3 linked regions of the Homo sapiens genome follow. The protein of the gene in region 1 purifies or fractionates together with the protein of each later gene. This does not show direct contact. Each region holds a gene or a part of one and is shown on either strand. Other genes may lie near its edges. The genes, in order: KIAA0586, KIF24 and CEP97.

What was found.
Region 2: the proteins of KIAA0586 (region 1) and KIF24 purify together in Homo sapiens (co-immunoprecipitation; one study listed by IntAct). This does not show direct contact.
Region 3: the proteins of KIAA0586 (region 1) and CEP97 purify together in Homo sapiens (co-immunoprecipitation; one study listed by IntAct). This does not show direct contact.

Annotation. Positions count from the first base shown.
Region 1 is NC_000014.9:58,434,118-58,437,771, reverse strand, and holds part of KIAA0586 (protein TALPID3), read right to left. Parts: intron 1-3,654. UniProt on the Homo sapiens protein: Required for ciliogenesis and sonic hedgehog/SHH signaling. Required for the centrosomal recruitment of RAB8A and for the targeting of centriole satellite proteins to centrosomes such as of PCM1.
Region 2 is NC_000009.12:34,305,252-34,308,905, forward strand, and holds part of KIF24 (kinesin-like protein KIF24), read right to left. Parts: intron 1,191-3,654; coding exon 1,001-1,190; intron 1-1,000. UniProt on the Homo sapiens protein: Microtubule-dependent motor protein that acts as a negative regulator of ciliogenesis by mediating recruitment of CCP110 to mother centriole in cycling cells, leading to restrict nucleation of cilia at centrioles.
Region 3 is NC_000003.12:101,758,970-101,762,623, reverse strand, and holds part of CEP97 (centrosomal protein of 97 kDa), read right to left. Parts: intron 140-3,654; coding exon 64-139; intron 1-63. UniProt on the Homo sapiens protein: Acts as a key negative regulator of ciliogenesis in collaboration with CCP110 by capping the mother centriole thereby preventing cilia formation. Required for recruitment of CCP110 to the centrosome.

The sequences.
Region 1 (3,654 bases):
GCATCTTAATTTCCAGCTTGGATCCCTTTTGTGAACTTGGCCTTTTTTTTTTTTTTTTTTTTTTTTTGAGACAGGATCTCACTGTCACCCAGGCTGGAGTGTATTAGCATAACCATGGCTCACTGCAGCCTCAACCTCTTGGGCTCAAGTGATCCTCCTGCCTCAGCCTCTCAAGTAATGAGGAGTACAAGCACATGCCACCCCACCTGGCTAATTTATTGTTTTTAGAGATGGGGTCTTGCTATGTTGCCCAGGCTGATCTCAAACTCCTAGGTTCAAGCCATCCTCCCAGCTTGACCTCCCAAAGTGCTGAGATTATAGGCATGAGCCACTGTCTGGCAACTTGACCTTTATATTCCATTTTCTCCTGAACACTTCTTACCCACATTTCTCACAGGAACCTCAAACCCTTGCCCATGCCCAGAATAAGTTATCCCCCACAAGGATTTCCTTTCTCAATGAGTAATACTACTCACCATGTATTTGTGAAAGCCAAAAATCTGGGATTCAACCTTAGTGCCTTCCTTACCCTCATATCTAATTAATGATTCCTGTCAATTCAATCTCCTAATCATCTTCCAAATTTGTCTCTTCCTCTCCAACTGAGCATGATTCCCATTACCATACCACCACTGCCCAGTGTATTCAGGACCAATCTAACTCACTCCTCCCTGAAAACTCCAGAGCCAATTCATTTGCTGGACTATAGTCTAGCCCTCTTCCAATCCATTTCTTCATATGGCTACCAGAGTGAGTATTTTAAGAAATATATCTAATTCTTTAAAACTTTTCAATGATTTGCCATTTATCTTATATTAAAGACCAAATTCCTTTAGGGGAGTTCATAACCTAGTCCCTTGCTTATCTCTCCAGTCACACACAAGGGAGTTCTCCCGTTGTTCTAGACACTCTAGCCAGATTCTTCATTCCTCTAAGGCTTTAGAGTACATTATAATATCAATTAAGGCAAGTTCTCCATCATCCCATTTTTGTTTTTGCTTTTCCAAATTTATCTTAGCTATTCCAAACTGAATGTATTCTATATGGATGTATCCTTAATTCTGTGTGTATGTATATACACACATATACAGTATAAATATATACATACAGTATACACACAGGCACATACTTTTTTTTTCTCAACAGTATGTTCTTCTAGGTAAGTGTTAGAATTACATTTCCAATTTACATCTACCACTTATTCTCAAAATAACAAAAAATTTTAAGACTGACCACAGCCAAACATATGCTAATTTTGTAATAACTTGTATTTTTACAGCGCTTAGTCTTCCCATCCAAGAACATGTTGAGTCTCTTAATTTATCTTAGCCTTTGGTTATTTCCCTTGACAAAATTTCATACTTCTTCAGACAGATTCTATAGACTTCTGGTTATGAGTATTCCCAACTTTTTTTTTTTCGGTGGGGACATTGCTATGGTAATTGTTATTTCATTTTATTATTGAATAATATGCTGAGTATCTGGTCACCTTCCTGAACTTCCATTAGTGTAAAAATTTCTGAGTTAGTGGTCTCTTGGATATTCTGAATACACAATATTTTCTACAAATTATAACTTTGCCTCCTCTTTTTCAATATCCATAACTGATTTCATTTTCTTATCTAACTGCTACAACTAAGGCTTCCAAATTAAGTTTAAAAAATAATGGACATCTTGTCTTGTTCCCAATTTTACTGTTAAACAGGGTATTGACTGCAGGTTTCCAATAAACATTGTCCTTCATGTTAAGAATGTATCATTCTGGCTGGGCACGATGGGTCAAGCCTGTAATCCCAGCACTTTAGAAGGCCAAGGTGGGCAGATCGCCTAAGGTCAGGAGTTTGAGACCAGCCTGGCTAACATGGCAAAACCCCGTCTCTACTAAAAATACAAAAAATCAGCCGGGCATGGTGGCACATGCCTGTAATCCCAGTTACTCAGGAGGCTGAGGGAGGAGAATCACTTGAACTGGGGAGGCGGAGGTTGCAGTGAGCCAAGATCACACCGTTGCATTCCAGCCTGGGTGACAAGAGTGAAACTCCATCTTAAAAAAACAAAAAAGGAATGTATCATTCTATTCTTAAAGAAGTTTGTGGGTATTATGTGTGTATGTGGTGACTGAGTATAAAATGGGTATGGAAGGGGGGCATAGGGAGAGATTTGTTAAAGGATACAAAATTACAGCTACATAGGAGGAATAAGTCAGGAATACGTTACAGCTAGATAGGAGGAATGACTATAGTAGGATGAGTATAGTTAACAATAATGTGTTACACGGTTAAAAGGAGGATATTGAAGGTTCCTAACACAAAGAAATGATAAATGTTTCAGATGATGGATATGCTAATTACCATGATCTGATCACTACACATTATAAGTACAACACTACGTACCCTACAAATAGGTACAATTATTTGTCAATTTAAAAAATAAAAAAATTAAGAAGATATGGGCATAAAATGTCATTAAATGTGACTGTAGTGCTTGCCACATATATTTTCTTATTTGATCAAATGATATAAATGTATTAATAGATCATGAATTATTGTAGTGGCGCAATGGTTAAGAGCACTGTCTCTGGAGAGAGACTGCCTGGGTGACTTAAACCCTTCTATTCCTTAAGCTTGAAACATTATTAGACGTGCTAGGCTTTTGTAAAGATCAAGTAGTATGTAAGAAGTGCAGCCAGGTATGTTGGCTCATGCCTGTAATTCAAGCACTTTCAAAGGCTGAGACGGGAGGACTTCTTGTGCCCAGGAGTTTGAGACCAGCCTGGGCAATATAGTGAGACCCTATATCTACAAAAAGTAAAAAAGTTAGCTGGATGTGGTGGCACATGCCTGTAGTCCCAGCTACTCTGGCGGGGGGGCGGTTAGGGGGACCTCAGGTTGTAGGATTACTTGAGCCTGGGAGGTCAAGGCTGCAGTGAGCCGTGAACCTACCCATGAACTCCAGCCTGGGTGACAGAGCGAGATCCTGTCTCAACAAAATAAAAAACAGAAAGTAAAACAAAAATAAAGAAGTGCAGAGGACAGTGGCTGGTGCATAAGTGTTACATCAGAATTTGCTATTACCATTTTTAAAACATTGCTGCATTCCAATCACTGTGTATTAATCTTTTAACATATGATAAAATATAATTTACTCATAACTTATTTAAAGAACTAGGTTTGTTTAAATTACAATAGCATGATGAAAATATCTCTGATGAAACTAATTGTTAGGTGTTGATACTTGGGCTAGGTTAGCATCATAAAATGACATGAGGGGCATTCTTTGCTTTTCATTGCTCTGGAGCAGAATATATAGCATGATCATAATCTGTTTCTTAAAATTTTTCAAGAACTCAAACAAAATCATGACTGCTTTTGGAGATTGCTCTTTGAAGGTTTTTTTTAAATTTATTTCCCAGTAACTGGCCTATTAAAATCTTCTTAGTTATATGGTTATTTTTGGTGAGTTATTTCTTTCATCTAGATTTCTTAATTTGTAGCATTCATGTACACAGTATTCTTAATACACTGTATTCTTAATACCTTCTAAGTCTATCATTATGTCCTCTTTTTACTTCTAACATGCATTCTCTCACCAGTTTTCTGACTTAGACTTGTCCAAGATTTGCTTATTACACTGACGTACTTCTAGAACTAGTTG
Region 2 (3,654 bases), on another chromosome or scaffold:
TTATTAGTGTTTTATTTAAACCCTTATATGTTAGATGTGAAATCATATCTCTGGATTTTATTTACCCACTGCAATCTACCCTGTATAAAGTGGTCTGCTCAGAGCCCAATTTTCGCCAATTAAGTATAAGCCCAAGACAGCTGAGAATCAAAATAAGCACGTGGCTGGCAATTGTCGGTCCTGTTGCCCAAAAAGATATTGTCCATCATTAAACCCAAGTCTCAAAGTCAGCAGAATGAGAAGTTCACACTGTGAGATGCAAGCAAGAATGGAAATCAACTGTGTGACATCTCATAGTCATATATTCAGTGACTGGTCCTGTTGACAACTACTTAATTATTTATTTGTTTTTTATTTTTATATTCTTTTAGAGGCAGATCCTCCCTCTGTTGCCCAGGCTGGAGTGCAGTGGTGCAATCATAGCTCACTGTAATGCAGAACTCCTGGGCTCAAGTGATCCTCCTGCCTCAGCCTCCTGAGTAGTTAAGACTACAGGTACACACCACCATGCTGGGCTAGTTTTAAGATCTTTTCTGGAGAGACAGGATCTCGCTATGGTGCCCAGGGTGGTCTCAAACTCTTGGGCTCAAGTGATCCTCCCACTGCAGCCTCCCAAAGCACTGGGATTATAGGCGTGAGCCACCACACCTGGCCCCACTTCATTATTTAAATTATTTTTATTCCTTCATTCCTCCTTTTTTTTGCTGAATATGTATAATTAAATTCACACAAAGCATGTTAAGTGAATATATGATGTAGCTCCACTGCACAAGAGAAATTGTTTTTGTATCCCCTATTGCACCGTCTTTTGAAAAAATGAAGGCCCTGGATATCAATGACTTAATACAGTGTCACATCAGGAATGAATGTCAACACCCGAACCAGAAACTTGATTTTCAGTGTTCTAACAGAAACTTGTATGCCACCACTCAAACAAAAAGCAAAAAAAAATGACATACTTGATAATATTAGTTCCAAACATAAAACGAAAACATCATACCTGCAGAATATATTGAGTGAGGTCAACTGCTTCTTTCTTCTCATGCACAAGTAGAGTTTCTTTGTCTTCTACAGTAATAATATTAATTTCTCCACGACGTACCTCCCTCATGCCCAGGGGGCGTTTTCGAACACAAACTCTGATTTTCTCCATCTCAGTCCAAGGATTCTGTTTCTCTGAAGTGTTCTGTCTAATATGTTTATAAACAGGCTTTTAATTTTTAATAATAGGACAAGATTACTTAACAGGTCAAAGTATTGGTACCTTTTAGCCGGGCGCGGTGGCTTACGCCTGTAATCCCAGCACTTTGAGAGGCCGAGGTGGGCGGATCACGATGTCAGGAGATCAAGACCATCCTGGCTAACACGGTGAAACCCCATCTCTACTAAAAATACAAAAAATTAGCCAGGCATAGTGGCGTGCGCCTGTAATCCCAGCTACTTGGGAGGCTGAGGCAGGAGAATGGCGTGAACCCGGGAGGCAGAGCTTGCAGTGAGCCGAGATTGCGCCACTGCACTCCAGCCTGGGCGACAGAGCCAGATTCTGTCTCAAAAAAAAAAAAAGTATTGGTACATTTTGCTGTATATTAGGCATAATATATTTCTTAAAGTTACAAAGTAAAGTGTCAACCCTGAGAAAGTTCTTCTATCTCCATCCCCACCCTGCTCCGCCCTTTTCCTTGCAAAAACACAAATAACAGAACAACAACAAAAAACCAACCAACAAACAAAAAACCCCTAAGAGATCATATATAGAATACTATTTTATACAATTGTTTCATATCAATTCTGATTTCCTTAGCCCTCCAACTGGCTGCTGAAAAAAAATTTTTTTTGAGATAGGATCTCACTCTGTCACCCAGACTGGAGTACAGTGGCACAGCCATGGCTCATTGCAGCCTCAACCTCCAGGGTTCAAGAAATTCTACCTCAGCCTCCTAAGTAGCTAGGACTATAGCATACAACACCGCAGCTGGCTAATTTTTGTAATTTTTGTAGGGACAGGGTCCCACTATCTTGCCCAGGCTGGTCTTCAACTTATGGCCTCAAGCAATCCTCCCATTTTGGCCTGTCAAAGTGCTGGGATTACAAGCATCAGTCATCACGCTCAGCCTGGAGAATAATTTTTTTACTGGGATCTGAATTGGTTTAAAAAAAAAAAAACCAGCAAATAATTTTCTAATATAATGAATGCATAAAGCACTAATTTTATGGCATGTTTTAAAGCAAATTTTATTTTCTTAACCAACATTTAGGGACTTTAAAATGCATCATTTTTGCATGAAACTGCAGATGGAATAAATAAATGACAGAATAAATGAAATGTACCATTTTGAGGTACTGTGGGAAAATCGTGACAATCATTGAAACTGGATGACGGGCCAGGTGCGGTGGCTCACGCCTGTAATCCTAGCACTTCGAGAGGCTGAGGCGGGCAGATCACTTGAGGTCAGGAGTTCGAGACCAGCCTGGCCAACATGGTGAAACCCCATCTCTACTAAAAATATAAAACTTAGCTGGGCATGCTCACTTAAACCCAGGAGGTGGAGTTCACAGGTGAGATAGTGCCATTGCATTCCAGCCTGGGCAACAGAGCAAGACTCTGTCTGAAAAAAAAAAAAAAAAAAAGAAAAAAGAAAAAGAAATTGGATGATGGACATATTGGGATTCAGTGTTCTATTTTTTTCTTCTTTTGCATATGTTTGATTTTTCACAAGAAAAGGGAATTTTTTGTTTTGAGACAGGGTCTTGCTCTATCACCCAGACTGGAGTGCAGTGGTGCGAGCATAGCTCACTGAAGCCTCAACCTCCTGGGCTGAAGCCATCCTCCCACTTCAGCCAATAGTAGCTGGAACTACAGGTGCACACCATCATGTCTGGCTAATTTTTGTATTTTTGTAGAAACAGGGTCTCACCATGTTGCCCAGGCTGGCCTCGAACTCCTGGGCTCAAGCAATCTGCCTGCCTTGGCCTCCCAAAATGCCAGGATTGCAGGCATGAGCCACTGTGCTCATCAAAAATGAAAATTTTTAATGCTTTTTTTTTTTTTTGAGACAGAGTTTCATTGTGTCACCCAGGCTGGAGTGCAGTGGCACAATCTTGGCTCACTGCAACCTCTGCCTCCTGGGTTCAAGCGATTTTCCTACCTCAGCCTCTAGAATAGCTGGGACTGCAGGCACCTGCCATGACGCTCTGCTAATTTTTGTATTTTTAGTAGAGATGGGGTTTAGCCATGTTGGCCAGGCTGACCTTGAACTCCTGACCTCAGGTGATCCACCCGCCTTGGCCTCCCAAAGTGCTGGGATTAGAGGTGTGAGCCACTGTGCCTGGCCTAATGCATCATTTTAATAAGGGTTTTGTGTTAAAATCTTTAGTTGTTGGATATCAATAACCTAATCATATAAAGCTGATCAAAGAGGATAGAAAATGTTTGGTCCTTTTTAAAATTGTTCAGGGCTCTAGGATGACTCATATGAACAAAAGGCCCATAGTTTCAAGTTCAAGGAGCAAAAAGACATGCATGTTTTTTTAAAAAGCTCTAGTTTGGGCAGGGCAGAGTGGCTCTCACCTGTAATCCCAGTGCTTTGGGAAGCTGAGGTGGGAGGATCACTTGAGGCCAGGAGTTCAAGACCAGCCTGGGTAACATAGTGAGAT
Region 3 (3,654 bases), on another chromosome or scaffold:
TCTCAATGAATATAGAATCTGTATTTGATCATATATGAGGTAAATCAGCAGGAGGGAGTTTACCTGGTTCCAAAGGAATCTGAAAGCTTCTTCTTGTACAAATTTTTTAATACGTTCTTCATCTCTTTCTTTTCGTAATCTACAATAATTCAAAACACATTATTGACATAAGGAAGGGTGCTTTGACTCAGACTTCCTGTTACAACTCATAAACACATGCATTGTAAAGAGATTAATAATCTAATAGTTGTCTTTCCCACTTTTAGAATATCTAAATTAAAACCTTATTTTATTTTTATTTTTTTAACCTCAGAATCAAAATGGAACAGTTTTATAAGTGACATCATAAACCTTAATTTTGAACTGTGACTCAAAGTAGAAGCCAAAGGAGATATGACTGAAATACAGGTATTAGTTCTACAAAGTATTTCCAGTAATAAGAAATAAAATAAAATGTTAAATGGCTCTTTGTCTGGCTTCAATTTCTCAGCCAAACAAACCAAAGGAACAGAAAGTGCAAAAAAGGAGTGGCTATCCAAAGCCTCCAAAACAATTAAGGGTCACATTTAAGTACTCGTGATCCAGCTTGAAACACCCTCTGCTAAAGACTAATCCCATCAAACTTCACTATTCTGTTTCCCCAGGTCTCCGACCTACTCCTTGCTAACAAGAGACCTCCCATCCATTATTCCTCATTCATTCATCAAAGTCTGAGGTCTGGGCTCACTGCTGTTCTCTCCATACTTAGGCCTATCACAAACCTAAGGCTCCTCCTTTAGTGATCCATTATCACCCAAACTGTCAAGACCATTTTGTTCCACACCTCTGACCCAATTCTCCACTTTCTCTAGCCCCCCAAGCCTTTCTCCTGTGCCATCTAGAACTCCTGAATTATAATTAGCAAACTCCCTTATATACTCCATCTCTCTCTGAACTTTTCCTTGTCCAAAGCAGACCCACTTCTGAGAGCACTATAGCCCTCTGAAGTGGAAGCTATTTTTCCCTGTCACACATCAGGGTTCAAAAATTGCTTCTCACTATTGTTTTCAAATGATTCTTCATCTCCCTCCTTTAACTCCTGCCATCCTGCTAAATTTCCCAAAATTCGTTGTCAAGTACTGACCTCCCACCATCTGCTCCCATTCAATGAAGTCTCAGCACCAGGCTTTCTCTTTGCCCCATACCTGTCATCGTTTTTGGAGACCTCAACATTCACATGGATGCTCTAACAATAATCCACCCCATGTCAGTCACCCATTCTCATAGTCTCACCCTAGACCAAATCATTTTGACTACACTACTTTCAGAAATGGTTCTAAGCACCCAACACCAACCACTACTTCCTATCCTCCCAGTTCACTTGCTGTTGTACCCCACTGCAACAATCTAGACCTTCAGTCCAATGATCCTTCCCCCCTGCCTTCACTTCCCTTTTACCTCATTTAAAATTCCAGCCAGCCTGGGCACAGTGGCTCACACCTGTAATCCCAGCACTTTGGGAGGCCCAGGCAGGAGGATCACCTGAGGTCAGGAGTTTGAGACCAGCCTGGCCTACATGGTGAAACCCTGTCTTTACTAAAAATGCAAAAAAAAAATTAGCTGGGCATGTGGCAGGTGCCTGTAATCCCAGCTACTCGGGAGGCTGAGGCAGGAGGATCACCTGAACCTGGGAGGCAGAGGTTGCAATGAGCTGAGATCGCACCATTGCACTCCAGCCTGGGTGACAAGAGCAAGACTCCATCTCAAAAAAAAATTTTTTTAGATAAAAAATAAAAATAAAATTCCAGTCAGCAAGGTAATTCACACCTGTAATCCCAGAACTTTAGGAGGCTGAGGCAGGAGGACTGCTTGAGGCCAGGAGTTCAAGACCAGATGGGCAACATAGACTTCATCTCTTTAAAAAAATTTTTTTTAATTAGCTGGGCATGGTGGTGCATGCCTATAGTCCCAGCTACTTGGGAGCCTCAAGTGGGAGAATCACTTGAACCCAGGAGTTCAAGATTACAGTGAGCTATGATCACGCCACTACACTCCAGCCTCAGCAAGAGGGCAAGACCCCATCTCAAAAAACATATAAAATCTAAGATCTATCATTATTACTCCCTCTCAAATATCTTCAGCTCTCTTGCCCTTCCCCTGCTCTCTCTACAATATCACCTAGGAAAAAAAATCATTCCTGGCTGAACCAAATTAACCATGCCTGAATCAGACCAGAGCAGCTAAGAATTGCTGATGAAAATCATACAACCTGACCTATTGTTTTGCACTTTTAAGCATTTTCTCACATTGTCCAGCAACCCTCCTCCATTTTCCTCATAAGGTCATGTTTAAGATAACTACCTCACACCTCATACTTCTCTCCTTACACCTCCTTCACCCTCTCCTCATTTTCAGGTGTTGACCACATCTTATACATTATTGAAAAAGAAGCAGCATCAGACAGGACTTTTTCCCATCTCCCACCATCAAACCTACCACCTTACCTGCTCCTGCTCCCATTTCAGGCCACTTCCTCTACTTCGACACTACATTTCTTCCTCTCTTACCTTCTCAAGAACTGCAATCCTGCTCTTCCTCTTTTTTTTTTTTTTTTTTTTTTTTGCTGCACCATCAGTTTTTCCCTCCTTATTTATTCATTCCATCAACACATGAACAAACTCTATATCTCTCATCTACAAAAGAGAATGTTCCTTTAATCTAGATTCTCCTCCAGACACCACTTAACTCTCTTTTCTCTTGTTTTCCTCAAAACAACTCTTTCCAAGAATTGGCTACACTCATCCTTCAAACTCTTTACCTCTCATTCACTATTCAACCCATTCCAAAATGGCCTTCATCCCTCTACACCACTGAAGCTGCTCTTGGGAAGGTCACTGTGCAGTAAAGAGTTAACTCAGCAGGATGGGGATGTTCAAACACTGTACATTGCAAAGATAAGACTGGCCCTTGACTGACTCCTGGGAGATAATCTCCAAGCCCTTGGAATATCCTGACTGAAAAAGAATATCTTTATACACCTGGGGTCTTGGTCACATCAGATAGTTTAGGCAATCAATGATTTCTAGTCAACATCTGTTTTGTTCGCCTGGGGTCCTGGGTCCTGGGCCATGGAGTATCAGTGTGACCTCTATGTGGTCTGAGGTGTAAATAGTTAAGATCAGTTACATGGGTACTCAATACCTATGTGACTGGCCCACAATAAAAACCCTGGACACCAAAGATGAGGTAACTTTCGTCAGTTGGCAATACTTCATATGTGTTATCATACATCATTGCTGAGAAAATTAAGCCCTGTCTGTACAACTCCACTGAAAGAGAACAACTGGAAGCTTGCACCTCATGTCTCCTAGACTCTGCCCTAGGCACCTTTTTTCTTTACTGATTCTAATCTGTATCCTTTTGCTGTAATGAACCATAATGACGAACAGAATAGTATTTTCCCAAGTTCTGTGAGTCCTTTTAGCAAATCATCCAACCTGAGGATAGTCTGGAGAATCACCAACACAGTCACCAATAGCCTCCAACTGCCAAGTTTAATGCCTGTGTCCTCTCTGTGGCACCTCTCATCTCTCCTGAAACACTTGCTCCTGTTGAAGGTGGAACTCTCCTAGTTTTCCTACCACTCTGGCTGTCCCTTCTCAGTATCCTTTGCTG